Linked DNA regions of Homo sapiens. The protein of the gene in region 4 interacts with the protein of the main gene of each other region in a pairwise test. Each region holds a gene or a part of one and is shown on either strand. Other genes may lie near its edges. The genes, in order: PDGFRL, NARF, PTPRJ, SFRP4, CKMT1B, PTPN12 and DLC1.

Region 1 (4,327 bases), on a different chromosome or scaffold from region 4:
ATGTGGCTAATGGCTATTGTACTAGACAGCACAGAGAGAGAACATTCCCTTTATCACAGAAAGTTCTATTGGACAGTGCTGCTGTTGACTTTCATCACTGTCTTCTCAGAACCTATGACCATCTTCTTTTTGGAAACTCCATAGGATGCTTCACTAAAGACCTCCCATTTGTCCTTTTTATTATTTTGTTTTTTGATTTTTCGGTAGAAGTGAGGTCTCACTGTGTTGCCCAGGCTGGTCTCGAACTCCTGAACTCAAGCTATCCTCCTGCTTCGGTCTCCCAAATTGCTGTAGTTACAGGCATGAGCCATTCTGCTCAGCCCTGTTTGTTCTTGTGAATACTATGAGCTGAGATTTCGGGGGCAAGATTCCCAAAGATTGTGGCTGTTGTGTCTCCAGTCCCTGTCCCTAAGCCTCAGTGGACTGCCTCAAAATGTTCAGGTCAGAGTGGAGAACTCTTCTCTGCAGTGCAAAGTATGTTTCTGGAAGATGGAGCTTGCATTTTGAGAAACACGTGTGCAGAATAACTGCTCAGCCTCTTTCTTCTGTAATGTTCTCTAAGTTCTGAAGTTTAGGGGATGAAGTTCTCCAGCAAGGTTCAGAAGTCAGTAAGAGCTTTCAGGAATCTTACAAAGCCACCCTCGTCCTATTGTCGTCCAAGACATTTCAGGTGAAACCAGAATCCTTTGTTAGTGCCTGGGCAGGGACTTTCATGAAATTTCTCCATGCCTTGAATCCACCTACCTTTCAGACGTAGACCTAGACATAGGCCTAGACCTAGACATAGGCCTATGACCCAAAGGATGTTATGCCCTGACCATTAAAGAATGTTTTAGTACAATCTTATGTATTTGTCCTTTCCTGCCCAAATAGCTCCTCTCTGGCAAGGAGATGCATTAGTAGGGTATGCTGCAGTTCTGGAAGCACATGTATCTCATTTTGATGCAGACTTTTTACTCCTTAGTTCAGAGATCCAAGTTCTTGTCTCATGCCAGGAAAACTTAGGCACACAGACACTTAAAAGAGTGCGTGGAGTAGAATTTATTATGCGAAAAGGAAAGCTCTCAGCAAAAAGAGGGGTCCTGAAAGCAGGTTGCAGGTTGCTCTCCACACAATTGAATACAAGGGCTTCTATGTTCCCTCGGTAGGGCTGGGTTCCCTGTTTGTAAGAGGCGTGAATTCCTGGCGGCTCCACCCCATCCTTTCAGTGTACCTGCAGGCCCTTAATCTGAGTCACTCCACGTTGATTTATTTCCCTTACTGCATGTGTGTTAAGGGATGGAATTTTTCACTGGGGGTATGTTTAGGCAAGACCCCTGTGCACAATGACCTTGGTAGGTCAGAGGTTCTCTAAGGACATTCCCGTATCTGCTTAGGAGAGTTCTCTGCCTCCTGCCTCTATCAGTTTCATTCCACAACATCCCTGGGAAATAAGCAAAAGCTATTTTATTATCTCCAAAATACTAGAAGTACTAATGCTCATGCTGAGCCTCAATGTTCCAGGACCTGTAGTGGCACAATAAGGAGCCAAACCTGTTTTTCTGACCCAGGATCCAGTGTTTTTACTGCCTTGAACCTTTTGTAGGACAAGGTGAAGGATGGACTGATAGCCAGATTCTAGCTAGCATAACTGGTGTTGTCAGGAGAATTGCTAATAATTGTTCATAGGCAATCTCTTTGGATCTTCATTTTGGAACTCGCTACACAAGATTGTAAATGTGCCCTTTGTATTATACCATGCTGTGAAGCAACAGTGGAAAAAGCAACCAACTAAGATGAATAAAAGTCTGTTATTCAAGTCAATGACTGATTCCACATTTCAAGTTGCAGAAGGAAGATTCTTTGCCAAGATTAGCACTGTTGTGTCTTCCCAAAGTATTGGTCGAGGTTTTGAACTGCAGGCTTAGCTTGGGCAGAATATCCTATTAATATTATGGGCTCTTGGCCAGGCATGGTAGCTCATACCTGTAATCCAGCACTTTGGGAGGCCACGGCGGGCGGATCACCTGAGGTCAGGAGTTCGAGAACAGCCTGGCCAACATGGAGAAATCCCATCTCTACAAAAATACAAAAGTTAGCTGGGCGTGGTGGTGCACAGTTGTGCTCCCAGCTGCTCAGGAGGCTGAAGCAGGAGGATCGCCTGAATCTCGGAGTTGGTGGTTGCAGTGAGTCAAGATTGCGCCACTGCACTCCAACCTGGGCGACAGAGCAAGACTTTACCTCAAAAAAAAAAAATACGGGCTCTCTTTGAGTTTTGGAGGCGGAACCTTTTTGTTTTTTTTTTAACTGAACTAATTTTGGGAACCAAAGAAAAGCTAAAATATATTCATTCCAACTATCAAGAAACTTTGATCAAAAAAAATAAATGCTGTAACACATTTGACCTAATGTGTTATACATCATTTATTTTTTCTTATTTGTCAACACTAAGCTAGGAGTCCAGTTGGATTTTTACTATAGGGTTTGGCAATTTGTCTTTTCAAGCATGGATGGCTTTGAGAAACCAAGATGGGCTGTTACAGAAGCTGAGGTTCTCACTGCTGGCTCAGGATTCTTTCAGAACATGTGTTTCCTGGCTACCCATGTGGAGAAATGTTTGTCATTCATTATGTTTGTATGTTTCCTAGAGTTTGATTAAAAACACTGAAGCTTCTTTTGGGGGACTGACTGTTGTTAGTGTGCAGTTTGTGATTAAATAATTGCCGTATGTATTTCCTCTTTCATCTTGATCCAGGAGGATCTTGGAAGGTTTTCCCTGCTTCTCTTTCACTTCTTATTGTAGTATAACATATGTAAAGAAAAACATTCAAATTCTCAGAATACAGCTCAATAAATTATCCTTAAGCAAACAGGCACATGTAACTCCCACCCAGATCAAGGATGAGAACATTACCAGCAGCAGAGCTTTCTCATAGTAAAAGGCTGAGGCTCTAATTTTTATACGTAGGAAAACCACATTAATAAGTACTTTCCTGGCTGGGTGCAGTGGCTCATGCCTATAATCCCCTAGCACTTTGGGAAGCCGAGGCAGGCGGATCACTTGAGGTCAGGAGTTCAAGACCAGCCTAACCAACATGGCGAAACTCCCTCTGTACTAAAATGCAAAAATTAGGTGGGCATGGTGGCACACGCCTGTAATTCCAGCTACTCGGGAGGCTGAGGCACAAGAATTGCTTACACCCAGGAGGCAGCGAGTCAAAGTTGCAGTGAGCCGAGATGGCACCACTGCATTCCAGCCTGGGTGACGGAGTGAGACTGTCTCAAAATACTGAATTTGTTGTAATTTGGATTTAGTTTATAGCTTGTTAACTTGCATTTATTTATTTTTTTATTTTTATTTTTATTTATTATTATTATACTTTAAGTTTTAGGGTACATGTGCACAATGTGCAGGTTAGTTACATATGTATACATGTGCCATGCTGGTGTGCTGCACCCATTAACTCGTCATTTAGCATTAGGTATATCTCCTAAAGCTATCCCTCCCCCCCCCGCATTTTTTTGTTTTTTTGTCTTTTTTGAGATGGAGTCTCCCTCTGTTGCCAGATTGGAGTGCAGTGGCACCATCTCAGCTCACTGCAACCTCCGACTCCCCGGTTCGAGCGATTCTCCTGCCTCAGCCTCCCGAGTAGCTGGGATTACAGGCATGCGCCACAGTGCCCAACGAATCTTTGTATTTTTAGCAGAGATGGGGTTTCACCATGTTGTCCAGGAGGGTCTCGGTCTCCTGACCTCATGATCCGCCTGCCTTGGCCTCCCAAAGTGCCGGGATTACAGGCGTGAGCCACTGCACCTGGTCGAGTTTTTTTTTTTAATCTAAAATCCCATGTGTTTAGTTTTCTTTAAGTAAAACATTTGTCTTCTAGATAAGTGGATATAAATACATTTGCAGGGGACATGTGTAATCTATAATTATTAAAACAAACTTCAACACTTTGTTATTGTTGATGGAAGCTACGGATTGCAAATATATTTTTAAAGCAACTGGTTTGGTCACATTTCAAAGTATGTATTATAGTATAAGAAGTAAAGTATATATTATAGTATAAGAAGTAAGGCTGGGAACATTGGCTCATGCCTGTAATCTCAGCACTTTGGGAGGCCAAGGCAGGAGGACTGCTTGAGTCCAGGAGTTTGAGACCAGCCTGGGCAACATAGTGAGACCCTGACTCTAGAAAAACTAAAAAATAAAAAATTAGACAGGCATGGTGGCACGTGCCTGTAGTCCCAGCTACTCAGGAGGCTGAGGTGGGAGGATCATTTGAGCCCTGGAGGTTGAAACTGCAGTAAGTCATGATGGTGCCACTGCACTCCAGCCTGGGCAACA
Region 2 (4,327 bases), on a different chromosome or scaffold from region 4:
TCCATTCTCACATTGCTACAAAGAACTACGTGACACTGGCTAATTTATAAAGCAGAGAGGTTTAATTGACTCACAGTTCCACAGGATCTACAGGAGACATGGCTGGGGAGGCCTCAGGGAACAACCATGGCGGAAGGGTGAAGGGGAAGCAAGCATGTCTTCACGTGGCAGCAGGAGAGAGCAAGTAAAGGGGGAGGTGCTGCACCCTTGTAAACAACCAGATCTTGTGAGGACTCACTCACTATCATGAGAAGAGCAAGTGGGAGATCCGCCCCCATGACCCAGTCACCTCCTGCCAGGCCCAGCCTTCAGTTTCACATGAGATTTGGGTGGGGACGCAGAGCCAAACCATATCACAGGTGAAAGAGAAAGAGACAAAGGCAGATGAGGCTGAAAAGCACTTCTTGGTTTCCATGCTGTCACCTCCACGGGAAGCACCGGCATCCTACCCTGCCCAGGGTGTAGGAGCCCATTCACAGTAGGTAGTGTGCTAGAGCAAGGTAGGGGCCTCAAGAAACACTGACTGGCACAAGTGGGTGGCATAGGGGACAGCCAAGGAGCCTTCTCAGCGTTTGCCATTCACCCCCATGGCTTCTGGACAAGTCATCCAGCAGCAATTAGATCACAATATTTTTCTTTGTGAGACAGGGCCTCACCCAGGCTGGAGTGCAGTGGAGAGAGTCTCAGTGGGGAGACTCTGGTGATCCTCCCACCTCTGGAGGCTCCCTGTAGCCTCCAGAGCAGCTGGGACTACAGACGCGTGCTACCACACCTGCCTAATTTTTGTATTGTTTGTAGAGACAGGGTTTTGCCATGTTGCCCAGGCTGGTCCTGAACTCCTGTGCTCAAGCGATCCTCCAGCCTCAGCCTCCCAAAGTGTTAGGATTATAGGCATCAGCCACCACCCATGACCTAGATCACAATTGCAGATAGAGACACATGTCCTCTGTGTTGCCAGCATTAGTTGTGTCTGGGTGTACCCTGACTTATATGCACTTGCACGGGAACTCCGTTAGCAAGCAGCAGGCTGCCTGGATAGGATGGTCTGAACCAGGAGATGCCCCCCACCCATCAGCCAGGTTCGCCATGCATACCCGTCCCCACCTGCTCACCCTTGGCCTTTCAGGGAACAGAATGGCTTCAGCCATTTTGTTACGTTGAACAGACTTAGTGGATACAGCTTTGCAGACTACTAGAGACTTAATTCTGTGGTGTCAACGGTTTTTGCAAAAACCCTTGAAAGTGTCTGTGTCACTTTATGCTTCCCTAAGTGATAGGGGCAAACAGCTGTGTGCAGCCATCCTGGTCACATTCAATATCAAATTCAGTTTTTTCCCCCCTGATACATAGAGAATTGTATCTCATTTGCATTTTCTTGCTTATTTAGAGAAGTTGGTTACCCTAGATGATGTTTATTGACAGTTTATATTTTATCTTATGCTGCTTGTCCAGTCTACAACTTATATTTTAGTACGGTGTGCGATGTGAATACATTCTTCTTCCTTTTTTTTCTTTTCTGAGATGGAGTCTCTCACTGTCTCTCAGGCTGGGGTGCAGTGTCGTGATCTCAGCTTATTGCAACCTCTCCTTCCTGGGTTCAAGCAATTCTCCTACCTCAGCCTCTCAAGTAGCTAGAGTTACAGGCAGGCACCACCATGCCCAGCTAATTTTTGCATTTTTAGTAGAGATGGGGTTTCATCATGTTGGCCAGGCTGGTCTCGAACTCCTGACCTCAAGTGATGTGCTCGCCTCGGCCTCCCAAAGTGCTGGGATTACAGACGTGAGCCACCACACCCGGCCAGATACATTCTTTTCTATTTGAAAAAATCAAATTGTTCCAGCATCTTCTGTTCTTCCCCTGTTGACCTGAAATATTATCCTACCTCTCTTATATATTGATAGATGTGCATCCATTTGTTTCTTTTTTTTCGGCCTTCACCATGTTGGCCAGGCTGGTCTTGAATTCCTGGCTTCAAGTGATCCACCTGCCTTGGCCTCCCAAAGTGCTGGGATTACGGGCATAAGCCACCGTACCTGGCCTTCTTTTTTTTTTTTTTCCCCATTACTTCCACCCCACCCTTGTACTGCGTGTCTATTTCTTGACCCTTTTTTGAGATGGAGTCTCACTCTGTCGCCCAGGCTTGAGTGCAGTGGCACGATCTTGGCTAACTGCGACCTCCACCTCCTGGGTTCAAGCAGTTTTCCTGCCTCAGCCCCCTGAGTATCTGGGATTACAGGTGCACACCACCATGTCTGGCTAGCTTTTGTATTTTTAGTAGAGATGGGGTTTCTCCCTTTTGGCCAGGCTGGTCTCGAGCTCCTGACCTCAGGCTATCCACCAGCCCCGGCCTCCCAAAGTGCTGGGATTATAGGCATGAGCCACCACGCCTGGCCCTTGACTCTTATATCTGAACCTGTCTTCTATTGCGCTGCCAACATCTAGTTTATGCTAGTTTATGCAGTATTTTTTTAGAACAGTTTGTAGATGAGGCTTACTCACAAAACATCTTAGGCCTGGTAACTTTTTTTTTATTTTTTTATTTTTTATTTTTGGAGATGGAGTCTCACTCTGTCGCCCAGGCTGGAGTGCAGTGGAGCAATCTCAGCTCACTGCAACCTCCATTTCACTTCAACCTCCACCTCCCGGGTTCAAGCGATTCTTCTGCCTCAGCCTCCCGAGTAGCTGGGATTACAGGCACATGCCACCACACCCAGCTAATTTTTGTATTTTTAGTAGAGATGGGTTTCGCCATGTTGGCCAGGCTGATCTTGAACTCCTGACCTCAAATGATCCGCCTGCCTCAGCCTCCCACAGTTCTGGGATTACAGGTATGAGCCACCATGCCCAGCCGGGCTGATGACTTTTAAGAGGCATCTCTGGATACCATTTTAGTGTGTCTGTTTTTTTTATTGTTGTGTAGTAATTTCACTTATTCATTGGCCAATGTTGTAATTTGTATTTTCCCTTTAAAATTATTTATTTTTTCCAGATATTCACATTTACTGATATAACATTGTTCTTGAAATTGACAAAGTCTTTTAGATCTGTAGTCTTGTCTCTTTTAAGACAGAGTATTGGCCAGGCTAGGTGGCTCACACCTGTAATCCCAGCACTTTGGGAGGCCGAGGCAGGTGGATCACAAGGTCAGGAGTTTGAGACCAGGCTGCCCAATATGGCAAAACCCCGTCTCTACCAAAAAGACAAAAAATTAGCTGGGTGTAGTGGCAGGTCCCTATAATCCCAGCTACTTGGGAGGCTGAGGCAGGAGAACCACTTGAACCTGGGAGGCAGAAGTTGCAGCGAGCTGAGATCGCGCCACTGTACTGTAGCCTGGGCAACAAGGGTGAAACTCTGTTTTTTTTTTTTTTTTACTGTAGCCTGGGCAACAAGGGTGAAACTCTTTTTTTTTTGAGACAGAGTATTACTCTGTCACTCAGGCTAGAGCGCAGTGGCTATGGCTGTTCCTAAGTGTGATTATAGCGCTCTGCAGTCTCAAACTCCTGGCCTCAAGTGATCCTCCTGTTTCAGCCTCCTGTGTAGCTGGAACTGTAGGCATGCACCACTGAAGCCAGCTCATGTTTCATTTTTTAAATCCTGACTTTTAAAAAAATATTTACCAGAAGCCCAAACCTCACCATAATCCTGATTTTTTTTCTCCTTTTTCTTAATTATGTTTGCCAGTGTTTGTCTATTTTATTAGTCTTTGCATAGACCATCTATTAACGTTGTTCTGAATTTCTCATTAAGGTGTGTAACTTTTACTCCTTGTGTAATCAGCAGATACCTAACATTCTCTATTTCTCCTTCTAGAAATGTGATACCTCAAAGCACAAAGTGCTGGTAGTGTCTGTGTGTCCTCAATCTTTGCCTTATTTTGCTGCTAAATTCAACCTCAGTGTAACTGATGCATCCAGAAGACTCTGTGGTTTCCTCAAAAGTCTTGGTGAGTCATCTTTTGATAAATTGGGAATGTATAACTTGAGTTTATAAGCGCCCTTTTTAATCTCTAAAGTTCGTTTTTCAAGGACGCAGGGTAGATAAGCAACTTCCAAAAGAGTCTCTTGGAACGTAAAAAGACCATGTCCCGTGTGTCATGAAACCCAGCCTCTGATCGATGGTAGACGAGTGTCACTTTTCTCCTTTGCTGTGCACAGACAGGTGTTTTGTTACACAGTGGGAGCTGACCCCTCTGGGACCAAACAGTGACCACCTTCTGACAACACGGACAGGACACTGGGAGATTCCCACACTGGCCCAGCAACCTCCAAGTCACCCCTTACCCCCAGAGGGTGTGCATTTGATAAACAGTCACTTCTGAAATGATTA
Region 3 (4,327 bases), on a different chromosome or scaffold from region 4:
GTGCCCACCACTGTCTGCAAAGCCTTTCCTGGGCTGCCCTGAAAGCATCCTCAATTACACAGAGGGCTCTTCTCTTTATCACACATTTTCAGTTGTGAGATAGGTGAGGATCAAGAAGGATGCAAAGGCTGGGCATCATTTCAATAAACTTTTCATCTTCTCCAGCACAAAAGACAAACCAATGCCAGATATCATCCACATCCTGGCTCAGCCCCACTCAGGCCTCACCTCCCACCTATATCCTCCTGTTCCTGCGGGTCCACTCCTCCCACCCTTGCCTCCTGCTCTTCCTCCAGCCTCCAGATACAGTGGTGATGCTGCACAGGCCCCTCTGCACAGGCCTCTGCCTGTAATGTTCTCATGCCCTGATATCCACATGGCTGGCTCCTTCCCTTCATTCAGATCTTTGCTCAAAAGTCACCTTGTCATTGAGGCCTTTCCTGAGCACTCTAGGTAAACATCCCACTTCCTCCTTCGAAAAGTTCCAAGAAGGCAAGGACTTGACTGGCATATGGTATATGCTCAATAAATATTTATTGAATGCAGAAATGATGAGGGCATCGAGACAGCACCGATAAGCTAACAGGATGCCTCGGAAAGCTCAATGTCCATCACTGCACATCACACAAAACCAGACAAACTACAGACTTGGGAGGACTGACCTGCAAGGTCAGCACCACTCAGGGAGGAGTCCAAGAGGCAGTTGGGGCTACACTCACCTGTACAGAATGACTTCCGGCCAGGTTCCAGTGACTTGATCCCATCCCCTACTTGTGCAAAGATCTCCACTGTGTATGATGAGCCAGGTATTAATTCAGTGACTGTAGCGTCAGTAATTCCAATGTCCGTGACTACTTGTGTTGCGTTGCTGGAATTTCCAGCCTTCTCAATAAGAAGGCAGTAGGAGTACGTGGGAGAGGCGTCATCAAAGTTCTGCCAACTTAAAGTTGCTGCTGTGGTGTTGGTACTTACATCAATGTTGGACACATTGCTGGGCCCTTGATTTTAAAAAAAAGGCAATTCATGTAAAAGCACAGATTAAGTAGAATTCCAGGACTATTTACTATATCCAAAAATAGCCTGGCTCGTTTTAGAAAGAATGAATAAAACTAGTATTTGCTGGCTCAAAAGATGGAAAACTTCCCAAAAACACATCAAGAAAATAATTATACAGATTAAGTCTCAAAAGAAGTTTAATTTAGGCTTCTTTTAATACTTCAAGTTTATTTCAAATATATTTTTAACATTTAATTTCTAATCTGTTTTTTAAATCTAATAGATGGAGAAAAATATACTAAAAACATATTACAAACTAACATCTTTACCATGTATTTAATTCAAATATTCGCAAAACACCTCCCTAACTGTTGCAGGCGAAGCTCCTCATCTGGGCAGTATCTTCCAATACCAACATGACAAGGTGACCCTTCTCTACTCTGTATTCTCAAGGAATGACTAGAACCATTTCAGTCACCATTCCCAAGGAATCATTTCTTCCTTCTAATGACAATTCTAAGTTCACATAGCTTGAAGAACAGTGCCCCATGGTGACAGCAGAACCATTGCTGAGACCAATGTTTTCAACTTCAGCAGTTTCAGAGTCAACCTGGATCCCAGAAGCACACTGGCCATCATTTAACCAGTGCCTCCTCCAAGAGACAGTTAGAGAGGCTGTTCCTTAGAAGGGCATCCTAAGAGACTTACGTGTGTACTGTGCAGTGGAGTTGGGGTCCCCCCAGACGTGGTCCACTTCTGGAGAGATGGTGATGTTATATAAGGTGCCCGGAATCAGGCCCTGGAGAGTAATCGCTTTGTCATACGTGCTTGTGTGGTTAGAGCCATGCTTGGACTCTATGACTAAATGGTAGACATACTCGGAAGCACCGTCAGGGCTCTTCCAGTCCAGCCACATCTCCGTGGTGGTGACGTAGACCACGTGGATGTCAAACACTGCACTGGGAACTGCTCAGAAGAAAGGAAGGAGAAGGGAAAACTGTTACTATCATGACGCCCAGCTTCCTCTCCAAGTGCTGTCGAGAGGACCTGCTCTTTTGCCATTACGCTTTCTAATGAGTTCACAAAAGGCACACTCCAAAATCGAGCTGAGAAATGCACACACTCAGTGCTCTCAAGAATTTCAGCTCTTCTGTGACGCACATGAACTTCCCAGTTTATCTTACCAGTTCTCCAGTTTTTTGTTGTTGTCTTAAAAATGAGCCCTTAGGCTGGGTGCAATGGCTCATGCCTGTAATCCCAACATTTTGGGAAGCCGAGATGGATCACTTGAGGTCAGAGGTTCGAGACTAGCCTGGCCAACATGGTGAAAACCCATCTCTACTAAAAATACAAAAATTAGTTGGGTGTGGTGGTACACGCCTGTAATCCCAGCTACTCGGGAGGCTGGGGCACAAGAGTCGCTTGAACCCAGAAGGCAGAGGTTGCAGTGAGCCGATATCACACCACTGCACTCCAGCCTGGGCGACAGAATGAGGCTCTGTCTCAAAAAAAAAAAAAAAAAAAAAAAGGCCAGGCGCGGTGGATCACGCCTGTAATCCCAGCACTTTGGGCAGCCAAGGCAGGCGGATCACCTGAAGTCGGGAGTTTGAGACCAGCCTGACCAGCATGGAGAAACCCCGTCTCTATCAAAAAAAGTACAAAATTAGCCGGGCGTGGTGGTGCATGCCTGTAGTCCCAGCTACTTGGGAGGCTGAGGCAGGAGAATCACTTGAACCCGGAAGGCAGAGGTTGCAGTGAGCCAAGATCGCGCCATCGCACTCCAGCCTGGGCAACAAGAGCGAAACTCCATCTCAAAAAAAAAAAAAAAAAAAAAGCCCTTCAAGGGGTCATCTGAAGTGGAAATCACATTCAGTTTTTTTATATGGGTGCTGGTAACAAGATGTGTTCAGTTTGTAAAAGTTCATGAAGCTATGTGCTGAGGATACATCCCTTTTCGGTATGTATATTATATCTCAATAAAGAGGTTTTTTTGTTTTGTTGTGTTTTTTAAATCAGTCACTCAGAAGGAAACATCTTCCCGTGACACAGCCTTACATACCAAAGAGGAAAACTGAAATGGAGAGCTGACCTTTACTAAGTTGCAGCATTTGAGGACGGATGAGGAAGGGAAGAAAACAGGCACACCCTGCACCTTCAGAGCAGAGTCAGAAATGGAATCTCCCACAGGAGCCCATCCTCCGATCATCTCCCGCTGCCCACTCAGCCACCTGCACCAGGGATGCCTACATAGAGGCCCGGAAGTAACCGCGGAGGCTGGGCCTATTTTCTACCGCGGCTTTCAACCCTGTCTCTCTTTACCTGGCAACAAACGTCACCTCCAGGGAGAGGAAATGGGCAGGTAGGGGACAAAAAAGGGAAATGCTTTCACTGCAAACACCTTGTCCAAAAAACAAAAAAAATTGTGCCATGTTTACGTACTATCTACTCCAAAATTAATTTTTTTTTTAATTTTAAGTGGATTCTCCTTACAGAGAAGCCACTGGGAGGAGCCTTTGTTTCCTACCAGCAGATTCCTGATGTCAAAGGGATTCCACAGACAAAAGCCCATGAAAGGCAGCCTTTGTCTATAAACATAAAAACCTAGAAACAACCTAAATATTCAATAACATGGGGAGGGCTGTGGGCACTGTGATCTGGCTGCATGATGAAATACTCTTTAGCCACTAAAAATATGAAGGCCATGCTAACTATAGGGGAAAGTTGTGGTATAGACTGAGTAAAAAGAAATTCAAATACAAAATAAAAGTATTTGTATAATAATTACAGTATACAAGCAAAATGTATGACTGTGGACACAGAGAGAAAAGGAATTCAGTTGGGTTAGAAAAATAGAGATATTTGTTCCTTTTCATTTTTATTGTGGTAAAACATACATACCATAATATTTATCATCTTAACCATTTGTCAGTGTACAATTCGGTATCATCAATATTCACAATGTTGTGTAACTATCACCACTACCTGTACCCAAAACACTGTCATTATCCCCAGCATAAACTGTAGCCATTAAACAATAATGCCCACTCCCTCCTCTGAACAGCCCCTGGTAACCTCTATTCTAATTTCTGTAGAATATTAAGTTGCCTAATCTAGGTACTCATGTAAGTGGAATCATCCAGTATTTGTCCTTCTGTGTCTGGCTTCACTTAGCATAATGTCCTCAAGATCCATCCATGTTGTACCATAAATCAGAATTTCTTTCTTTCTTATGGCTGAATAGTATTTTGTTGTATGGATGAACCACATTTTATCTATCCATTCATTTGTTGATGGGATCTTGGGTCCACCTTTGGCTACTGTGAACAATGCT
Region 4 (4,327 bases):
TCACAAAGTAAAGAAAACAAAAGGTTGACTATTTTTCCAGTTGATCATGTGAATTCTATTAATATATGGCACAATAACAACTGCAAAATATCTTGCTTTTCTGGATGAATCAAGTGCAAACAAAGGAAATGACCCAGGTGATAAAAATTACATGCATCAGATTGAAAATTTGACATCTTGATCCTCCTTGTCTTGGTGAGAAGTGCTTATCAGCCCTGATGGCACACCCCACCTGTTCTCTTCCTGAGGTTTTACTGCTGCAGGAAGAATGAGAGAATGATCCATGGATCTGATTATCTGAGAGTCAGAGAATTAAGGCCCATAGGCCCAGACAATTAAGATCTGCCTGCATATCCTTTTACTTGTGACTAGCTACAAATATTTAACATCTTAAATAAATTGTGAAAAAAATGTTAATCACAAAATCCTATGGTTACACTATCGAACTAGTTTAAATGCCCTCCTCTCTCTTACTTGAAAGAACCATTCAGCATTTTCTTCCATGAATAAGTCAGTCATGAAATTTGAAATGTTTTAAGTAATTTTAATTTCACAATTGTCATCTGAAAGTAAATTTAATTAACATATGTTCTTTTTCAATTCAAAAAGAAATGTAAAAGGCAGACATTTTAAAAATGTCTGTTTGGGCTGCCTACTTTATATTTCATTGCATGTCTTAAATCATTTCTGCTGAAATAACATAAAGTGGTTTTAGGGAAAATGCTTATTTTGTTTGCTGACTTAGTTTTCATCTTGCAGATTGAAATTTTATATCAGTAAGAAACTTTAGGATACATATCAGACATGAAAGTAGGAGGATCACAGAAATGTAGAAATCTGAAAAAAAATAAGCTGTTACAAAACTATCAGATTTAAGAATCATATTTAGCCAATGGGGGTAATTCAGCAACAACAAAAAGTAGTTTATCTTTTCCTGTAGCTTTTTTTCTTAAAGCCTGCTCTATGTAGCTACCATCCTCATCTGATTTACTTAGTCCCTCCTCTGCCAAGATCCAGCCTGAGATATTAATCTGAGTTTCACTGTCATGTCATTCTCTGGGGTGTTATGGCCTTTGAACGACCTTGATGAAGAAACCATTTTGTATTCAAGTCCTTTGGTGTCTTCATAAACTGGCTTCCTGAAATGGAATCCAAGACAGAGCCATATTAGGCTGATTACAACTCTACGGGAGGCAGTAATAGCAAGAGACCACAGAAACCAGCATTTAAAACTTGGTCAGAGACAGTGACATTAACAGCCATCTGTAATAACAGTTCTATCTCTGCTCACCATGGGTCTACTTTGTCAGTCTGTGAAGTTAAAAGATTGAGAACAGTAGTCCTCAGAGACTCCCTCCAGTTCAAAAATGTTATGACTAATGACTATCTCTGTAAAACAGAAGAAGCTCAAGCATCAGATGAGTGATTGAAGAAATGCAAACCTTAAGATGACTTCTGATCTGAATATATATGATCCCCACTTCAAATCACCACAAGGAAGAATACAAATATATGTTTCTGTGAATTTTTTACTGACCTAAAGGCAGAGAAAGACTAAAACCTGCTTTTCAGCTTGCTTTCCTATCTTGCAGTATGCCCCGGAACATTTAAGACAATGTTGACAATATAGGACACCATCCATTTAGCATATGACTGTGTGGGCTGTTTGCCTGCACTCAGGCCACTTGGACATAACCATAATTACAGGAGTGATTCTTTAAGAGAGGCTCAGAAGTTGGCATGAATACACCATCCCTAGTTTTTCCCCAAAACCTTCAACAACACTTTTATCTATTTTTAAATTGCAGTTATTCATGCCAAAATAAAAGCTGTGCAGAGGAGTGGCTGCAATGAGGTCACAACGGTGGTGGATGTAAAAGAGATCTTCAAGTCCTCATCACCCATCCCTCGAACTCAAGTCCCGCTCATTACAAATTCTTCTTGCCAGTGTCCACACATCCTGCCCCATCAAGATGTTCTCATCATGTGTTACGAGTGGCGCTCAAGGTAGGCACAAAGAGGCAGAAGGAACTGTATGCACACTGTTAGGAAGACCTCAATCTCAGTTAGCAGTCATGGTTTAAAAATATAACAAAAATATGCCAAAGTCTTTTTAAAAAAATTAGTTTAACAGATGCCTCTGTTTGAATAGCATATATTCTATCAATTAATTCTTCATAGAATGAAGGAAAAATCAAAATATGAGTATTTGAATAGAGTCTTTAAAAATCAGTTTCAAAATTCATTAAGTGACTTCAAAATTTACAGCAAGTCAATTATTTTAAGGAAGAACAATTCTTTTCAAATCATTCAAACAATTTTAGAGTGGCACATACTGAACTTTTAAGGCCACTTTAATAGCTTACAGATCAAGTAAGTAGGGAGTTGAGACTATAGTTCCACATATTTTCCATATAAACACTTCATAATATTTGATAGAGTATTGCAAACAAACACGCATGCACACACACACACTTTAAGGTGATTTCTGAATCGGATATGTGATTCTCAATTCAAATCATCACAAGGCAATGTATAAACAAATAAATATATGCTTCACACACACTCATACACATACACACAAATTCTAGCTGTGTGTATTTGTCTCCCTGGCCTCTCTTTCTTTCTTATTTTTTTTGGATATTGGTACATTACTTGTAATATAAAGTCAAACTCTTGAGCCCAGCCTCCATGTTGGGCCCCATAAGTTGATGCAGTATACTTCTCCAGCAAAATCACTCAGTTTTACATAACAAGGCATCCCTCCCATTCTCTGCTGTTAATGCTCATCTGTTTCTTCTAGATATAACCTAAGACTATTCCTCTGAAAAGAAACCAAAAACATCTTTGGGAACTAACTCCACTTTTCTGTATTCTATCAGTACTTGGGTGCCCTCCTTACAACATGGATATCACCTTGAGTTCTTGGTTTTAAAGCCAGATTCTGCGTATATCTTGTCTCCCTAAAGAAGCAATCAGTGATTCTGGACTCATCTCTACCAAGGTGTTTGCATCTGCTGCAGTGCTAGAGATCCAGTTGGGGATACCAGGTTGTTGGTCATTACATTCTATCTGGAGAGATGAATGGATTATAATCCATCCCAGTAAAAATAGTTTTGGATAATTGGGATTTATGTCCTCACAAATGATTCTAATAAATTGGTAAGGGTATGTAAAGACAATTCTGAAAATAAGAGAGGAAATCTGCCTTATGAGACCCGCAAACCTGGTGTAAAGTTACACTTGTTAAAACCATGTGATGCAATAGTAGACGTAAAGATAAATGAAACAGAGGAAAAACTCTTGAAACAGGTTTTAATGCATAAAATACAGCTTTTCATTATGAAGGAAATATGGCACATCAATAGAAAATGAATGTATTATTTGGTAAATGTTGAAAATATTCCTATTTGTAAAAAAATACATTCTTTTCACTTTATACTGTGCTTTACAATAACTTTCAAATGGATTAAATAGATAAATATTCTAAGAACTTTAAAAAAAGGACAAAATTAGTGACTAAATATGTTATATCTGAAAAGAAAAGTAATTTGTAAACATAAAAGTAATGTAAGAAATTACAAGGAAAAATATCAATACACATATCTGACTGCATAATATTATACATATAAAAATCACAAATAATGATAGAAAGGCAAATAAAAATTGAGAAACATACTTGAAAAGATATGAAAAAATAGTAATCTTACTAAAGAGTTCATAAAATTAATATTTAAACATTGAGATCATGATATAGAAATATATATACAGAAATTTATATAGAGAAGTTCAAATAGTAATACAAATAGAATACAGATAGTAAGTAAACATTTAAAAAATTATCTCCTTAATTCTAAATCCAAATAAAAATAAGATTCCATTTTCACCTAATTCTTAATGTTAGTGAATTGGATGAAAGTGCAACCATTTTGAAAACAACTTGGCACTATGCATTGAAAATCTTTTTAAAAAATACATACCCTTTAACTCAGTTATTCTATTTTAAAAATCTGTCCTAAGAAAATAATAAGCCAGTGCACACTACTGTATACAGGGTTATTCAATGCAATACTGGTAATCATAGCTAAGCAAAAGGGGAATTCAGCAATAAAGAAATGGATAGATATATTATGGATATCCATATTCATAGTATTATATTATTAACATTATATTTTTAAATTACTCTAATTACATCAGAAAATTTAGATCATATAATGACAAAAGGAAATTTGCAGATCAGCAGATCATCTCAATACACAATGTGATCTAATAAATATAATTAATATTGTTACAAGGAGGAATGAAAGGAAACACCAATAAAATATAA
Region 5 (3,707 bases), on a different chromosome or scaffold from region 4:
TTCCCAGGACCACTTTCTGTTTGATAAGCCTGTGTCCCCGTTGCTGACTGCAGCAGGAATGGCTCGAGACTGGCCAGATGCTCGTGGAATTTGGTATGAAGCTGCTCATTACCTCTTTTGTCTTCATGCCCTCATAAATGCTTTTTTTCCCTCTATCTCTCCCAATTCTTGCCTTGCCTCTTGATCACTGTCCCTCTCCGGCCCTCAGGCACAACAATGAGAAGAGCTTCCTGATCTGGGTGAATGAGGAGGATCATACACGGGTGATCTCCATGGAGAAGGGTGGTAACATGAAGAGAGTGTTTGAAAGATTCTGCCGAGGCCTCAAAGAGGTTAGAGAAGACTATGTAGGGGAGCTAGGTGGGAGGACATAAGGAAAACCAAAGAGTAGCATAAATAGATTATGTAATTTACCAACCAACCCAGGACATGTCTTATAGTAAAAAGGACTATCTAGGACTCACTCCAGGACTAAAGGTGTAAACCAGCTGGGACCATACTGGGAAAACCAGGACATGTGGTCACACTAAGATTAGGAAAAGAAAGAGTGTCAGGAATCTTAGGAAGTGAACAAGGCTGTTGACAGAGAGTGCAAAGAAGGAATAAATGAGATGGCACGTCAGTGCCTGGGATGTGTGCAGTGGGATGGTGAGGTGTGCAGATAAGGAAAACATTCGAGCTTAGATTGATGTTGGCGGGGAGAGGTTGCTGTGTTCATGACTCTAATATAACCACCCAGTTCTGAGACAAGGTAGGCCTTGACTCTGGATTCTATCATTCTTGTTAAAGTATCGGGTCTAGGCTTTAAGTTGAGAGTTCGGAGAGAGACTGGGGAAGGTGGAGGATAGAATGGTTCAAGTTCTAGAATATGTGGCTCTAGATGAGAGGTTGAACTGAATCATCAATCCTACATGGATTGGGTCTCCGTATTCAAGTCTACATTAGAAATCCCCATAAACTCAATTCAATTCTTACTGTATGTTCTCAAACATACAGTTCTATTTTAGGTTTGCAAAGAAAAAGAGCTCCTCTTTTAGATTCTGAGAAGTTTCTACTATTTTTGGCAAGTAATAGATAACATATTCTGACTATGAGTGGGTAGGGAAGTACCTTTAAATTATATGCCTCAGTTTCCTCATCTGTAAAATTGGGATAATGAGATTTTCTACATTTTAGGTTGTTGTGGGGATTAAGTGAAATACAGGTAAAGTACTTGGTCCACAGTAAGTGCTTAATAAGTGTTAAAGTGTTAGCTGCAATATTATTCTGGATGGAAGAGTTTCCCCCCATGTTCAGCATGTAAGATATCCCCTATGGCATGGTTCCTTCTGAACTATAAAGAGGATCCCTTTACTCATGTTGGGTTGTGGTCTTTGTGACCATCATTCTGCTAGATCCCTTGTCTCTTGAACTCTAATAGTCATCTTCATGACTACATGGTTAAGTGAAGCCAAACGCCTTCCCCCCGCCCCCTATTCCTATGAATCTGGCTTTTCTGCTCTGTTTTCATCTTTCTCTGCATTCACACAGGTGCTCCGTTCACAGCTAACAGAATGTTATCTTACCTCTTCCTGGCAAAGCTTACACCTTCATCTTCTGTCTGAAGGGACCCTTCTAAGCTCTAGGCTCATTAGCAAAGCAAAGATAATCGATGCATGCAGACCTCATTGAATAATCAGTCATCTCTCAGTTCAGTTTACCACCTCTGTTCATTTCCCTAGATCATCCTTAATACACCACTCCTTCGAGTTTTCTTCTTCCACATAAGATATTTTTTCACAATCTCATTATTATGCACATCATAATTTTGCATCATGCATGCATGAAAACAATAACAAACCTTTTTCATTTAAAAAAAGACCAATGTCATTCATTCACAGCCAAGTTTCTGTTCTAGACATATTTCTAGTGTTCTTGTGGGTCTAGCTAAGGGAGGGTCCAGGGTTAATGAAATATCCCTGATTTTTCGTTAACAAAACCTTTGTGGACTCAGGTGGAGAGACTTATCCAAGAACGTGGCTGGGAGTTCATGTGGAATGAGCGTTTGGGATACATCTTGACCTGTCCATCTAACCTGGGCACTGGACTTCGGGCAGGAGTGCACATCAAACTGCCCCTGCTAAGCAAAGTAAAGGAGTTGTGGGGTTACAGAGGGGTGTGAGTAAGGAAGGGTGGGTTGTGGATGGGGAGGGAGTGGACCCTTTGGAAAGGAGCCAAACATGTTGTGGCTAAAGGGTCAGAGGACAGGCCAGGCACAGTGGCTCATGCCTCTAATCCCAACACTTGGGAGGCCAAGGCAGGCAGATTACTTGAGCCCAGGAGTTCAAGACCAGCCTGGGCAACCTGGTGAAACCCCATCTCTACTACAAATACAAAAGTTAGCTGGGTGTAGTGGAGGCTGAGGTGAGAGGATCACTTAAGCCTGGGAAGTCGAGGCTTCAGTGAGCTGTGATCACTCCAGCCTGGGTGACAGAGAGAGACCCTGTCTAAAAAAAATTAAAAAAGAAAAAAGAAAAAAGGAAAAAAAAAGTTCAGGAGACAGAGCTCTGAGCAGGTTCAGGGCTCTTTCAGGTAGGACTAGTCTCTGCCTCTATTGACCCTGCTCCCAATCCCTATCTCCTCTCTAGGATAGCCGCTTCCCAAAGATCCTGGAGAACCTAAGACTCCAAAAACGTGGTACTGGAGGAGTGGACACTGCTGCTACAGGCGGTGTCTTTGATATTTCTAATTTGGACCGACTAGGCAAATCAGAGGTGAGATCCTAAGGGATTAGGACAAGGAGAGGTATAGGTCTGCGAGGGCCGAAATATGGCAGTGAGTGAGCCTCCGGGATGTAAGATAATCTGAAATGAAATTCAGGTTGAGTGGGGAGGCAATTGGAAATGAGCAGGCAAGTCAGTCAGTGATAAAGAAAAACTCAGACTGTAGGAAGCAGATCAAAGATTAGTGTCCCTTAGGTGGAGCTGGTGCAACTGGTCATCGATGGAGTAAACTATTTGATTGATTGTGAACGGCGTCTGGAGAGAGGCCAGGATATCCGCATCCCCACACCTGTCATCCACACCAAGCATTAACTCCCCATCGCCAGCTGATGACTCAAGATTCCCAGGAGTTCTGCTCATTCTAATGATGGCCCATTCTACTTGCTCTGGACCTGCCCCCGCATCCCCTGCCTCCATCCTAGTAAAGACTCCTTGCTATGCTGCAGCTGTCTGTGTTACTTCTAATGGTGGGGTGAGGAGGGAGCAGCCTTCAGGAAATGAAAAGAGGCAGTGGGATTATTTATGATGGAAAGAGACTCCAGATATGGCAACCCAGGAACACTGATTCTCAGGTGGGTGGAAAGCATTAACATTTTACCCATATTCCTCATCAGCTTCTGAAAATAATCAGGATGCACTTCTGTTTGCACTTTATTCATTATGACTTAAGATTTCTCTCCCCACAATCTCCTTCTACTGTAGAGACAGGCTCATAGCAGGTGGCCAAGGAAGCTGATAGTCAATACCAGGGACCAGGAAGGTCGTGACCAGTCCTGGAGGCCCCAGGCTGTACTTCGACCTATAATAGACAGGGAATGGGAGTAATATCACAACTCAGCTCTCCAGGAGCATTGATACTTGGAAATTAGCGCTCTGCCTGTAGACTCCTTCACTCCAGGGATCTCCCTGGGTGCACTCTAAGAGCCAGACAGCACCAAATTAGGG
Region 6 (4,327 bases), about 40 Mb from region 4:
CATGTGTTATGGAAAGGTAAAATGGTTGAAGATAGGATATGGTGGTTGGTACTGAGGAATGACATTCTATGTATATTTACATGATTCTGGGGGTGGTTACTACTTTGCAGATATTTTATTGGGTGGTAGATGCTTAAGTAATTCGTTTAGACACTTTTTTTTAGGTATAAGTAAAACTTACAAAAGCAAATTGATGTTTTTTTCTTTACTGTCTATACAAATTTTTTTAATGAATTTTTTTTCTTCAAGTTTCTTAGTTTAGTAGGTAACTTGATTCCCAAATTCACTTCTCTTATTTGTACATATTGTTTGGGTCTATCTGTTAGGAGACTTTATCTGATAGGAGACTTCATTTTAAGGTTTTTAAAAAAATTTTTTTTTTAGTGTTTTTTGTTTTGAGACAGGGTCTCACTGTGTCACCCAGACTGGAATGCAGCGACGTGATCGCAGCTCACTATATAGCCTTGGCCTCACTGCTGGGCTTAGTGATCCACCTACCTCAGCCTCCCAAGTAGCTGAGAGCACAGGCTTACGCCTCAATGTCCAGCTAGTTTTTGTATTTTTTTGTAGAGACAGGGTTCTGCTATATTGTTCAGGCTGGTCTTGAACCCCTAGGCTAAAGCGATCCGTCCACCTCAGCCTCTCAAACTACTGGCATTACAGGTGTGAGCCACTGCCTAACTTTTTCAAGACTATTTTTTTTAGAGCAGTTTTAGGTTTACAGCAAAATTGAGAGGAAGGTACAGAGATTTCTTATATACACCCTGTCCCCACACATGTAGCCCTCATTATCAACATTCCCTACCAGAGCAGTCTCTTTGTTACAATTCACAAACCTACATTGACAAGTCATTATCACCAAGAGTTCACATTTTACATTAGGGTTCATTCTTGGTGCTATACATTCTGTGGGTTTGAAGAAATATATGATGACGTGTATCCACCATTGTGGTATCATACAGAATAGTGTCATTGCTCTAAAAGTCCTGTGCTCCACCTATTCATTCATCTCACCCCCTTCCCAACCCTAGGTAGTCATTATTTTTACTGTCTCCATAGTTTTGCCTTTTTCAGAAGTCATATAGTTTGTTTTTGTTTGTTTGTTTGTTTGTTTTGAGACGGAGTCTTGCTCTGTCGCCCAGGCTGGAGTGCGGTGGCACTATCTCAGCTCACTATAACCTCTGCCTCCTGGGTTCAAGCAATTCTACTGCCTCAACCTCCTGAGTAGCTGGGATTACAGGTGCGCGCCACCACACACAGCTAAGTTTTGTATTTTCGTAGAGATGGGGTTTTACCATGTTGGCCAGGCTGGTCTCGAACTCCTGACCTCAAGTGATCCACCTGCCTCAGCCTCCTGAAGTGCTGGAATTACAGGCATGAGCCACTGCTCCCAGCTCAGAAGTCATATAGTTTGAATCATACAGTATGTAGCCTTTTCAGATTGGCTTATTTCACTTAGTAATGTGCATTTAGGGTTCATCCATGTCTTTTCATGGCTTACTAGCTCTTTTTTTCCTTTTATTATTTTTAATTGACACATAGTATCTATACTTATTAATGGGGTACATGTGATTTTGGTACATGTATGTGTAATTTAAAATGTGGAGTGACTAAATCAGGATAATTAGCATGTCTATCACTTCAAACATTTCAAATGTTTGATGACTTTTAGAATTTTTTTATAATTATCAGGTACATCTGGAATTTTAAAGATTAATTTTATATTGTGGACTTTGATACAAGTATTTTATTTGTTTTGATGTGTCTTTTTGTTTTAACGTTTTCACTGACTTAGAAATGTTTCTCTTTATTTAGGAGGATGAACAAGCAAGAACAGACTACTTCATCAGGACACTCTTACTTGAATTTCAAAATGTAGGTACTTACCATTTATAGACTATCTGTAAGAATAGTTTTCAGGCTGGGTGCAGTGGCTCATGCCTGTAATCCCAACACTTTGGGAGGCTGAAGTGGGAGGGTGACTTGAGTCCAGGGGTTCAAGACTAGCCTGGGCAACATAGTGAGATCTTGTGTCTACAAAAAGAAAAAAGTTAGCCGGGCATGGTGGCATGTGCCCATAGTCCCACTCACTCAGAAGGCTGAGCCCGGGAGGTTGAGGCTGCAGTGAGCCATGATTGTGCCACTGCACTCCAGCCTGGGCAACAGAGGGAGACTCTCAAAAATGGTTTTGAGAATAGAGAATAGTTTTCAAAGAGAAGACATAGAGAGGGAGGGGAGCGTGGGCTGAAAAACCACCTATTGGGTAGTATGCTCACTCCTTTGGTAAGGATCATTTGTATTCCAGACCTCAGCATTATACAATACACCCATGTAAGCTGCACATGTACCCCTTAATCCAAAATAAAAGTTGAGGCCAGGTATGGTGGCTCACTCCTGTAATCCCCAACACTTTGGGTGGCTGAGGTGGGTTGGTCACTTGAGGCCAGGAGTTCAAGACCAGCCTGGCCAACACGGCGAAGCCCCATCTCTACTAAAAAATACTAAAATTAGCTGGGCATGGTGGTGCACACCTATAATCCCAGCTACTCAGGAGGCTGAGGCACTTGAATTGCTTGAGCCTGGGAGACAGAGGTTGCAATAAGCCGAGATGGTGCCACTGCACTCTAGCCTGGGCAACAGAGCAAGACTCTGTCTCAAAAAATAAAATAAAAAATAAAATAAATGTTTTAAAAATAGAAAATATAATACTACTACCTAAATGTTTTATTTGGTAAAATGGGTTTGCTAGAAAATTATTTTGCTTTATATCTGCAAAATGCAAATAATATATATAATATATATTATTATTTTGCTTTATATCTGCTTTATAGTTTTTTGTAAGTAAAAAAAGTAACAGCAATTTTTATTTTTAAAGCATGTGAAGTTAGTTTTTGTCTTTGCAAACTAATCAACTTTTAGCTACTAAAAAAATAAAACAAGCTATATAAATAGTATACTATGTTATTTAACATAATTAATGAAATTTGGTAATTTTTTAGTTACGAAGATGAAATGAGAGTGTAATATTTAGTCTTGACATTTATGCTTATCACATTACATAAAAAGTAATATTAATTATAACATACCCTAAATTTGTTAAATTTGGAATAGTTATACCTTCTTTGCAGCAAATATTTTTATTCTATTGCAGTAAGCAGGTTATTGCATTGTTTATATAATTATTACCCTGTTTTACTGGTTTACAATTTGTTAAAGAAAAGTCACTATCAAAGCTAAGTCTTCATTTAGATATATATTGTTTTTAGTTGAAACCCCCCACAGCGCCCCGACTTTTTTTTTTTTTTTTTTGGCAACAGGGTCTCACTATATATTGCCCAGGCTGGACTCAAACTCCTGAGCTCAAGCAGTCCTCCCATCTCCACCTTCCTAGTATCTGAGACTATAGGGATGAGCCACCAAACCCAGCTAAATTTTTTATAGTTTATAGAGATGAAGTCTTGCCATGTTGCTCAGGCTGCTGTCAAATTCCTGGCCTTGAGTGATCTTGCCTTTTGCATTGGCCACCCAAAGTGTTGGGATTACAGATGTGAGCCACTGAATCTGGACTGGTTGCTAATTTTTTAATCTACGGTAATAATAATAAGTACCTTAATGAATTTCTGTGGTAGATCAGGCATCTTAATTCTGCTAACTGCATCATATCCAGATACTGTTACGTCTGTTGCACATAGATGAAGATACAGAAGCTTTAAGAAGTTAAATAGCTTACCTGAAGTTATTTAGGAAATGGCCAAAGTAGGAATTTGAGTATGGTTTGCTTAGATTCCGAGTATTGCTCTTTCTGTTAAACACCTGCAATAACCATTCTCAAAACATTTGACATCAGTACTCCTTTACATTCTTCAAAGTTATTGAGGATCCCAAAGTTTTTGTTTCTGGGGGTTGTATCTTTCAGTATATACTATATTTGAAATTAAAACTGAGAAATTTTTAAAAAACATGAATACATAAGCATATATTGTATTGGCTGTTAAAGAATAAGGCACGTAACATTTTAGTATTATTCTGAGAATTATTTAAAGCTCATAGACTCCCTCAAAAGGGTTGAGGGGAGGGGGTACCCAGACCGTATATTGAGAACCACTAATCTGTAAGAAGACTAGTGAGTTTGGCATTGGACAAATTCATCTCTCCATTCTTTTTCAGTTTAATGTTCTGTTAGTCTTCTGATTACAATGAATACTACTCTAACCTACTCTAACATGGTGCTTACGGTATATTGCTCATCCATTTAATAGTGTAGATTAGTTAAATAGTATATATAGTGTTATGTTTACAGTACATGCTCTGGAAGTAGAACTGCCTG
Region 7 (4,327 bases), on a different chromosome or scaffold from region 4:
ATACAACATACAATCTTACAAATCTGGAAGCCATCAAAATTGAATATCCATGTATATCTTCATGAGGAACACTGATATCCAAAATACTCAAATTTTAAAACTCTAATCTGATGCCCTGCCCCAAAATTCTTCAAAGAACCTTTGAAATAACACTGAAAATGGTAACTAAATTATAACAAAATAAAAATCCTTCTTACAGCTCTCATTCATACATTATTCACTTTTGATCCATACACAATAAATTTACTAATACTGTCTCTTGAGTCAATCCTTACCATTACAGTAAAACCTGAATAAAGACCACCCTTCTAAAGGTTCTAAAAAACTTCACTGGTTTGGGTTGGTTTTCTTCTTGTTGCGTTTTACTATGATTACTATTTTTCATTACCACTTAAATATATTTCCAGGGCATTCTAAAGGAAAAAAAAAAAAAAAGAAATGTAGGAAAAATAAAATAAGACAAAAAGTCATAAAACCAGAAAACCTATTTGCTGATAAGAACAAGCCCAATGAATAAACACATGTGGCTTTCAGGAATGCCGTTAACAACCAAAGGCGGGGAAAAAGCCTTTTGTAGGTGAGTTAAATTTACAGGGATTTCCTTGGGACACACATAGTTTCCTATATTCCCAAACATAGTGTCTTAAGGCGTTTCTGTTACAAACACAAAAATGCAAAGAATTCTAACAGGGAAAAAGTGTTGATGCTTGATTTAAGAGTAAGTGTTATCGTGTTCAGTTTTTATATCTCGACTTAAACAAAAAACAAAACAAAACAAAACAAAACCCTGTGGATCAGAGCCAGTAAGGCTAGAGGGAGCAGTTCATCCCTGAACTAATCCATACTGGTTAAAACTACATCACTATTTGCAATCGGGTCTAAAAATAAACTGCATTTGGAATGGGTGTAAGAGCCAACCTATTACAATCAAAGTACAGAAGAGGTTCGTGGAAAAGGAATATGCTTAATAACTTCGAAAAAAAATACCCATAAATGGACAAGGGTGTTGGGCCCCCTTTCTGGGTGGATTCAGGGGTAGTCAGATATTCCAGGTTAAACTGAACCTGATGCATCAATCTCCTTCTTGGAGGTGTCTCAGTGTGCCAGACACTGAATCCACCTTAGACATCTATTGCCATTCAGCCAGCAACAAACACACATTCACACTCCTCTGTGCAAACCTTTCTTTGCTCATCTTGGTGAGAAAACACATCCAAGAGTACCAACTATTCCAGTGGATACACCAGTCCCTCAACACACTGCAAATAAAGCGACACAGGTACGCATACACTGATATCACAAGAGAATGAAGTATCTTCATTATCTTCCATAATGTATTTAAAGAGTTTTGCTTCTCAGAAGCAATTTGAATAAGAATACACATAAATTTTTTTTTTTTTTTTGCACAGTCTTACATATTCCAGTCAAGGTCTATGAATACAGACCCTCAACAAACAGGAAGCAGCTTTAAAAATGTATCAAATTGCTATAGTCAATTCCTACACTCCAGCTTGTAGTTTTCTTTGTTTCAGGATTAGACACAGAACCCATTCTTCAAGGACTGGCAAAAGTTCTAGAAACAAACACCATGGTGGTGGAAGCGGTTGCGTTGCTTCAGTGATCACCTAGATTTGGTGTCTTTGGTTTCAGTGTTCTGGTTACTGAAGGAATCCCGGATCTTTACAACTTCAGCTGCACACAAATGTCCAAAAGATTTTGTGTACCATTCTGGCATGTGGCCCCTATCAGAGAAAAGAAAGAAAAGCTGATGAATTATTTAAGTTAGAAAGCATGGAAATAAAATGAGAAACATCTGTTTGCTAGTTCAAATGCATAAAATCTATCATTTCCCATGCCTTTGAATTCATGGCCGAGCTACCATATTTGCTTTGCTTTAGAACCACATTTTCTAAGGGAACCAAATTACGAAGTGGTCGCTGAAAGACCAACAAACATGAAATGCTACTTTCTAAACACCATTCTTCATGAAGTCACCAAGAAAAAATGACGTGTTTGTTTAAGGCATTCTTTGCATTAGACAAAAAGTCAGAATTTCCTTCATGACCCTCACCATATAAAAAAATCAGAATCAGAACATACCTTAAGTCAACTCTGCACATGTAGGTGAGTTTGGATTTTCCTGGCCCACAGGGTTCAATCAAATACCTGGACAAGAGCACATTAACCCTCACACCCACCACAGGTGCGCGATCGTGATCCACAGAGGTTAGTAAAAGGGCACAGGCTCCTTTGGGTAAATTAGTCCTCCAGGTTCTGTAGAGACAAAACCAGAGGCAGAAATGATGGAATTTCATAGAAGCCAAGTTTAAAATCGTGCTTCACTCTTCACTATTTGCAGTGTGGTGACGGGTCAGGCTCAGTGGCCATGCTGTGTGACCCAGGCCTAGGTAAATGGCATCCTCTAAACTACTTGCTATGGTGTACATGTGTTCCCCAAAAAGCATGTGATGGAAAGTGAATGCCCAATACAACAGTGTTGGGAGGTGGGGCCTAATGGGAGCTGGATTAATGCCAATTATAAAAGAGCTTAAGGCTGGGTTCCATGGCTCACGCCTGTAATCCCAGCACTTTGGGAAGCTGGGGAGGGAGGACTGCTTGAGCTCAGGAGTTCAAGACCAGCCTGGACAACATAGTGATACCTCATCTCTACTAAAAATAAAAAATATTAGCCGGGCATGGTGGTGTGCTCCTGTAGTCTCAGCTACTCCGGGGGCTGAGATGGTAGGATTGCTTAAGCTGTAATCATGCCACTGTACTCAAACTTGGGCAACAAAGTGATACCCCCCCATCTCAAAATAAATAAATATAAAAATAAAAATGGCTTGAGGCTGCACATTTGCTCTTTTGCTCTCCCTTGCCCTCTCTTTGCCCTTCCACTATGGGATGACACAGCAAAAAGACCCTCATTAGGCATGGTGGGTGGCCCATGCCTGTAATCCCGGCGCTTTGGGAGGTTGAGGTAGGAGGATCGCTTGAGCCCAGGAGTTTTGAGACCAGCCTGGACAATATGGTGACACCATGTCTCTACCAGAAACAAAAAAATTAGCCAGGTGTGATGGCACATGCCTGCAGTCCCAACTACTTGGGAGGCTGAGGGGGGAGGATTGCTTGAGCCTGGGAGGTGAAGGCTTCAGCAGCCATGAGTGTGCCACTGCACCCTAGCCTTGGTGACAGAATGAAACCATGTCCCCAAATCAATCAAACAACCAACCAACTAACCAGATGCAACTACTTGATCTTGAACTTCCCAGCCTTTAGAACCATGAGCCAAATAAATATCTGTTCATTATAATTGCCTGGTCTGTGAGATTCTGTTAGAGCAGCATTACATGCACGAAGACACTGTACAAGGACTGCTGAATGAGGAACTCTGTACAGAGCCGTTGTTACAGAGGGTTTATGTGCTCAGACAGTCTCCTCTTTGAAAAAAGAGCCCATTTGAAGTGTAGCTTAAAACCATTTTTCTATTTCACAAATGTCTTGGAACACAGACACCTAAAGGAGCGCTGGCTGTTTGAAAAGGTCTGGACTTCCAATGTGACATTTCCACAAAGATTTTTGGAATTCTTCTTTCAGTAATATCTCCAGAGAATTTATGAATTACACATACATCAGCCTTAACCACATCTCCCTTGGGACTCAAATGTTATTTCCTGGCTTATTCATTCACTAGCTGTTTCTGACAAGAAAATCTATCCTAAAAGGGGCAAAAATCTGCTACGAATGAGCATATTCATTGGAAGGGGCCTCTCTTTCTGAGCTCAGTTACCAAAGAGTTCAGACCATTCTCAGCGAGGAACACACTGCTAGAATAAATGTAGATCTGTTTTCCATATTTGAAGGTGTTCACTACTTTTCTGGAAGCATATGTTTTGTTTTGTTTATTCAGAAATAAGGTCTTGCTCTGTTGCCCAGGCTGCGGTACAGTGGCATGCTCACAGCTCACTGCGGCCTCAAACTCCTGGCTCAAGGGATCCTCCTGCCTCGGCCTCCCGAGTAGCTAGGACTACAGGCATGCACCACAACATCTAGCTGATTTTTAAAATTTTTTTGTAGAGATAGGGTCTTGCTATATTACCCAGGCTGGTCTTGAACTGCTGGCCTCAAGTGATCCTCCCACCTTGGCCTCCCAGAGTGCTGGGATTACAGGTGTGAGCCACCATATGCCCGGCCTCTACTTTAAATAATTATACCATCTTGTAAGATCAGTGACATATAGGCTTGGTTCATATATGGAGTCATCCTTGTCACAAAAAAACAACTGGGAAGCGCTCACCTTAAAACAACGTAGTCTCGAGCAGGATGA

Evidence for each region.
Region 1: the proteins of SFRP4 (region 4) and PDGFRL interact in a two-hybrid assay, tested with the Homo sapiens proteins (one large-scale study listed by BioGRID and IntAct).
Region 2: the proteins of SFRP4 (region 4) and NARF interact in a two-hybrid assay, tested with the Homo sapiens proteins (one large-scale study listed by BioGRID and IntAct).
Region 3: the proteins of SFRP4 (region 4) and PTPRJ interact in a two-hybrid assay, tested with the Homo sapiens proteins (one large-scale study listed by BioGRID and IntAct).
Region 5: the proteins of SFRP4 (region 4) and CKMT1B interact in a two-hybrid assay, tested with the Homo sapiens proteins (one large-scale study listed by BioGRID).
Region 6: the proteins of SFRP4 (region 4) and PTPN12 interact in a two-hybrid assay, tested with the Homo sapiens proteins (one large-scale study listed by BioGRID and IntAct).
Region 7: the proteins of SFRP4 (region 4) and DLC1 interact in a two-hybrid assay, tested with the Homo sapiens proteins (one large-scale study listed by BioGRID and IntAct).

Annotation. Positions count from the first base shown.
Region 1 is NC_000008.11:17,621,651-17,625,977, forward strand, and holds part of PDGFRL (platelet-derived growth factor receptor-like protein precursor), read left to right. Parts: intron 1-4,327.
Region 2 is NC_000017.11:82,464,953-82,469,279, forward strand, and holds part of NARF (nuclear prelamin A recognition factor), read left to right. Parts: intron 1-3,811; coding exon 3,812-3,944; intron 3,945-4,327.
Region 3 is NC_000011.10:48,133,674-48,138,000, reverse strand, and holds part of PTPRJ (receptor-type tyrosine-protein phosphatase eta isoform 1 precursor), read right to left. Parts: intron 1,963-4,327; coding exon 1,705-1,962; intron 999-1,704; coding exon 720-998; intron 1-719. UniProt on the Homo sapiens protein: Tyrosine phosphatase which dephosphorylates or contributes to the dephosphorylation of CTNND1, FLT3, PDGFRB, MET, KDR, LYN, SRC, MAPK1, MAPK3, EGFR, TJP1, OCLN, PIK3R1 and PIK3R2. Plays a role in cell adhesion, migration, proliferation and differentiation.
Region 4 is NC_000007.14:37,909,799-37,914,125, reverse strand, and holds part of SFRP4 (secreted frizzled-related protein 4 precursor), read left to right. Parts: intron 1-1,808; coding exon 1,809-2,007; intron 2,008-4,327.
Region 5 is NC_000015.10:43,596,200-43,599,906, forward strand, and holds the end of CKMT1B (creatine kinase U-type, mitochondrial precursor), read left to right. Parts: intron 1-7; coding exon 8-93; intron 94-208; coding exon 209-332; intron 333-1,176; exon of another isoform or gene 1,177-1,993; coding exon 1,994-2,128; intron 2,129-2,627; coding exon 2,628-2,753; intron 2,754-2,957; coding exon 2,958-3,074; 3' UTR 3,075-3,207; downstream 3,208-3,707. Other genes in the region: STRC (stereocilin precursor), read right to left, coding at 3,473-3,561. UniProt on the Homo sapiens protein: Reversibly catalyzes the transfer of phosphate between ATP and various phosphogens (e.g. creatine phosphate).
Region 6 is NC_000007.14:77,596,027-77,600,353, forward strand, and holds part of PTPN12 (tyrosine-protein phosphatase non-receptor type 12), read left to right. Parts: intron 1-1,815; coding exon 1,816-1,875; intron 1,876-4,327. UniProt on the Homo sapiens protein: Dephosphorylates a range of proteins, and thereby regulates cellular signaling cascades. Dephosphorylates cellular tyrosine kinases, such as ERBB2 and PTK2B/PYK2, and thereby regulates signaling via ERBB2 and PTK2B/PYK2.
Region 7 is NC_000008.11:13,084,190-13,088,516, forward strand, and holds part of DLC1 (rho GTPase-activating protein 7), read right to left. Parts: coding exon 4,298-4,327; intron 2,275-4,297; coding exon 2,101-2,274; intron 1,743-2,100; coding exon 1,622-1,742; 3' UTR 1-1,621. UniProt on the Homo sapiens protein: Functions as a GTPase-activating protein for the small GTPases RHOA, RHOB, RHOC and CDC42, terminating their downstream signaling.